Linked DNA regions of Homo sapiens: region 2 is linked to region 1. Evidence: fine-mapped expression QTL. Tissue or cell type: whole blood. Region 1 holds a variant in brackets; the other region holds the start of a gene. All regions are shown on one strand. Distances are between the middles of the regions.

The links. PIP is the estimated chance that this variant, and not a neighbour inherited with it, causes the effect.
Region 2: it holds the start of NEK9, and the variant in region 1 is fine-mapped to the expression of NEK9 in whole blood (TOPMed, PIP above 0.99).

The regions. Positions count from the first base shown.
Region 1 is chr14:74,990,843-74,993,526 of GRCh38, reverse strand. No RefSeq gene overlaps it. Among named protein-coding and RNA genes, the nearest start is that of EIF2B2, 11 kb to the left of the region's middle. The variant A/G (reference allele first, on the strand shown) is at 1,584.
Region 2 is chr14:75,125,718-75,128,401 of GRCh38, reverse strand. It overlaps NEK9 (NIMA related kinase 9), which reads left to right and starts at 1,354. Exons shown (of 22, transcript NM_033116.6): 1 at 1,354-1,699. The coding sequence starts at 1,481. RefSeq lists enhancers at 1,301-1,430, 1,441-1,490.

The DNA of each region.
Region 1 (2,684 bases):
AGCAGAGAAGACTACTTAGTCTCTTCTATCGCTGGTCTTTTTGAATATGATGCCTGGACATACTGCAGCTGTCTTGTGACCTGAGGTCTCAAGACTTGGGAATAAGGTTAACATGCTGAGGATAGGAGAACAGAAAAACAGAAAGAAGCTGGGTGTGGTGGCTCACACATGTAATCTCAGCACTTTGGGAGGCGGAAGTGGGAGGATCGCTTGAGGCCAGGAGTTCAAGACCAGCCTGGGCAACATAGTGAGCTCTGCCTCCCCCTTACCAAAAAAGAAGAAAAGAAAAACAGAAAGGACCTAGGCTCTTGACAATATCAACACTTAATGGGTATTTTATGTATATTAACTCTTTTCATTCTTACAAAAACCTTGAGATAGGTGCTCTTAATGTAACCATTTTCAAAAGAGAAACTTGAGGCAAAAATAGGTAACTCGCTCAATGTTACACACCTAGTAAGTGGAAGAGCTGGAATGTAAACACAACAGTCTGGCTTCAGAGCCTGAACTTTTAGTCTATGTACTGTGGTATCTTTTATTAAAATTTTGTATGAAATCAACAAAACCAGAAGTTGCCCTACCTTTAGACTCTTTATGTAAAATGATACATTTCTCTATTGTTTATATAATTTTGAATGGAGTTCTCTATCACTTGCAGTCCAAAGCAACTTGATATTGGGTATTTATCTGTTTTTAGTTGATTTGTAACATCTATTTATATACTGCATTTAAGATACCAACCATTTGACTGCCATTTGTGCTGCGATATTAGTATTTTTAGAAATTTTGTCCCAATTCTCATATATTCCTGTGGGAGCGCAAATTAAAGCACCTTTTAGTAGCTGTTTTAGTTGGGAAAACAGCAAAAGACTTTAAAATGTTCATTTATACCCTTTGAGCCAGCATATCCATGTTTAGAAATGCATTCTAAGGAAATAATCAGAAATAGGCATACAGTTATCCACAATAATATTTTTCTTTTATTTTTATTGTTTTCTTTTCTTTTTGAGACAGAGTTTTGGTTTTGTCACCCAGGCTGGAATGCAATGGTGCAATCTCGGCTCACTGCAACCTCTGCCTGCCGGGTTCAAGTGATTCTCCTGCCTCTGCCTCCTGCCTAGCTGGTATTACCGGCCTGAGCCAGTACACCTGGCTAATTTTTGTATTTTTAGTAGAGATGGGGTTTCACCATGTTGGCCAGGCTGGTCTCAAACTCCTGAACTCAAATGATCCGCCCACCTCAGCCTCCTAAAGTGCTAGGATTACAGACGTGAGCCACTGCGCCCAGCCCACAATAATATTTTTCACTTTATTATTTTTAACACAAAAATCAGAAATAAACCTAAATATTAAAAATTAGGAGATTGGTCTAGAACATTATAGTACAAAAAGTACTTTCAACCTGGCTGTTACCATGCTTGCGAGCTATATTACCTTGATATAAAGTAGTCTGATTAACATTTGGAGCTAAAATGGTATTAGCTTTATTCTCTTTATTCTCTTCTTTATTCTCTTAAACTTGGAAGATGAGCTACTTTCTATTGAAAGTAATTCTTGTTTTTGAGACTTGAAAGCTGAAAGGT[A/G]CCTCAGGTGCTTTATAGTTTCCATGTATCTTTGTGATTCTTCAAAACTGAAATGGAAATTATGATTGCGTATTTGTTATATAATTATTTTCAAAACAAAAGAATGTTATAGTACAGTCATACAATGGAATATCGATTTTTGGAATTTTGATATGGTAAATGCTTAACAATAAGGAGAACTGTTGATAACATATTGTCAGTTTTGTTTATTTTCTATTTTTATTTATTTATTTTTTTTTGAGATGGACTCTTGCTCTGTCACCAGGCTGGAGTGCAGTGGCACGATCTAGGCTCTAGGCTCACTGTAACCTCTGCCTCCTGGGTTCAAGCAATTCTCCTGCCTCAGCCTCCCGAGTAGCCGGGACTACAGGTGCGCACCACCACGCCCAGCTGATTTTTGTATTTTTCATAGAGATGAGGTTTCATCATGTTGGCCAGGATGGTCTCCATCTCTTGACCTCATGATCCGCCTGCCTTGGCCTCCCAAAGTGCTGGGATTACAGGCGTGAGCCACCACGCCCGGCCGTATTATCAGTTTTAAAAGGCGGATTGCACACAATCACTCTTGAAAATAGTTGGGCAGTCCCTTTCAAAACTAATAATGAACTTATAATACAACCCAGCAATTGTATTTTTGGTGATTTATCCCAGAGAAATGAAGAACGTCTACATAGGAACTTGCAGGTGAATGTTCATGGCAGCTTTATTCATAATAGCCAACAACTGGAAACTACCCAATGTCTTCCAACTGGTGAATGTTTACACAAACTGTACATCCATACCATGGAATACAGCTCGGTAATAGAAAGGAATGAAATATCGATATATCCAACAACTTAGACTAACCTCAAGGAAATTATGCTGAGTGAAAAAAACCCATCTCAAAAGTATAGGCCAAGAGTGGTGGCTCACGCCTGTAATCCCAGCACTTTGGCATGTTGGGACAGGCAGATCACTTGAGCCCAGGAGTTCAAGACCAGCCTGGGCAACATGACGAAACCCCGTTTCTACTAAAAATACAAAAAAAAAAATTAGCCAGGCATGGTGGCACATGCCTGTAATCCCAGCTACTCAGGAGGCTGAGGCACAAGAATCACTTGA
Region 2 (2,684 bases), 130 kb before region 1:
GCTTTTTCAGATTGCTGGGTTCAACTTCCCAGCTCCCTCTTACTAGGTCTGTCACATTAAGCAGGTTACTTAGGTACCTCTGTTTCTGTAAAATGGGAATGTTAGGATAATACATAATACATAATACATAGGATAATACATAATAATGTGAGATAATACGTAAAAAACCTTTAGCATAGTACCCAGAACATAACACTCAATAAATGTTAGCTGTTATGTCTGTGATGTAGACCACATTCTCACAACAAAACAAGCTTGGAGATGAGAAGTTGCCCAAGGTCACATAATTGCCCAAGGTCACATAACTGATGGAACACCTATTGTTCACCGTATTGCTGTTTTCCTACTTGACGGTAGGGAGAACATTATTGCAGATTTCCTGTTCCCAAACAGTGTGTGGCACCAAGTGCTCAAAGAATGTTTCATGATATCATATGGTCAAATATCTGGAAAAACACATAGAATAAATTGAATCTGGAAAAAGAGACGGGGGAGAAGGAAAGTGTCAGGAGAGTTGACTTAAAATATTTTTGGAGTTGTGTAGAAGAGGGAGGGACTTAGGATGGCCCTGGGAGAAAGAACTCGGCCCAGGGACCGAGATGACCGGAGGCAGACATTTAGGCTGTCTATATTATTATTATTTTTTTTTTTTTTGAGACAAAGTCTCGCTCTGTTATCCAGGCTGGAGTGTAGTGCGCGATCTCGGCTCGCTGCAACCTCCTCCTTCCGGGTTCAAGTGATTCACCTGCCTCAGCCTCTGGAGTAGCTGGGATTACAGGTGCCTGCCACCACGCCTGGCTAATTTTTGTATTTTATAGAGACGGGGTTTCACCAGTTGGTCAGGCTGGTCTCAAACGCCTGACCTCAGGTGATCCGCCCGCCTCGGCTTCCTAACATGCTGAGATTACAGGCGTGAGCCACCTTGCCCGGCCATATTATCTTTACTATACTATCTCTCTAAAAAAGAATGCTGTCCAACGTTGGAATGGGGAAGAAGGTGTACACTGGGAATGCTTCCCCAATCACCCTCTTGTCACAGACCTGACGTCAAGATGAGACTGGACGACCTCTGGGCCTCCAAGTTGTATGAGTCCGGACCGGGGAGGCAGAGAAGGGTCAATAGACCCGAGAGGCCGTACCGTCAGTGATGCCCTTGTTCCCGTGGGAGCCCTTCGGTTCCACGCGGTTCCCACCACGCGCCCGCCAACCCTAGCCCGAGGCCTCACTTTGCAGGCCTTCCCCGAAAGCGGGAAGCCTTGGCCGCTAGACTAGCCAAGAGGGTAAGCAAAGGCGGAGGAAACTCAGCCAGGCCGGAAACACAGAGAACTGTTTCCGGGTCGGGGGGCAGGAGCCACCATCGAGCTTCGCGGGGTTGCTGGGCTGACGGATCCGCGGGCCGGCATCTGAAGCGAGCGGGACGCAGCGCGGCCAGGGCCTCCGGGCATACGCAGGCTGGTCCCCAAGGCCCGCGGCCGCCGCCATGTCGGTGCTGGGCGAGTACGAGCGACACTGCGATTCCATCAACTCGGACTTTGGGAGCGAGTCCGGGGGTTGCGGGGACTCGAGTCCGGGGCCTAGCGCCAGTCAGGGGCCGCGAGCCGGCGGCGGCGCGGCGGAGCAGGAGGAACTGCACTACATCCCCATCCGCGTCCTGGGCCGCGGCGCCTTCGGGGAAGCCACGCTGTACCGCCGCACCGAGGTAGCGGCCCTCGGCGCCGGCCGCCCTGTCTGGCGCTGTCGGGTCGCCCCGAGTCCCTCCTTCTCGGCCCCGCTTTCCCAGCGTCGTGAGCTTAGTGCTTTAGGCGCCCACGGGGTATATGTCTTAGGGTCTTCACCACTCTTCCCACTCACCGGCACTAGAAATTGGCTAGATCATTGGTTTGACTAGTCATTTTTGATTGTCCTAAGTCACCTAACCGTCTCTTGAGCTTTAGTTTCCCCATCTGTAAAATGGGCTTACTGATAATACCTTGAAATCATCTTTTTCTTTTTTTTTTAAGATTATCTTGAGAATCAAACGAAGGCTCTGTTCTGTAAATTAAAGTGGTATACGAATGTGAGGTATTGCCAAAACTTCCTTCCTCTCATGCTGTATATATAGTTCTCCAAGGTCGGGGTGAGGAGGAGGGGCATAGCTTCAAAATCCCCACACCCGTGGCAACTCCGTTATTTTTGTCATTATCTTTAAGTTCAGCAGTGATCACTCAGTTGGAAGCTTTTCTTGAAGCTCATTGGGAAGATCTTTGTGTGTTGGTTCTTTATCAGTGTTTATCTTGCAGGGTTTATGCATGGGAAATACTTTGTTGGTATATTCTAAGCCATTAGTTCTTAATTTGGGGGGCACAAGGACCCCTTTGATAACCTAAGCAAAGTAATCTTGCCCCCTCCATCAACACATTTGCACATATGCACATCCTTTGGAGAGATCCATGGATCACGGAATCCCAAGTTAATATATACTAGTGTAAAACCCTGCAGTGATTATTCTACTTCCAAAAACTAACGATACACTAGATTTGATCATAAAATCTTACTTTAGGGTAAACATTTAATGAGAACTTGCTGGGGTTGCTGAAGGTGATTCATCCGTCGGAAATCCATCTGCAGTTCTGGTGTGTGTTCCAAGCCAGCATACTTTTAAGGCTGAAAGATGGAGAAGGAGAGAAGTGGTTGCAAGAGAATAT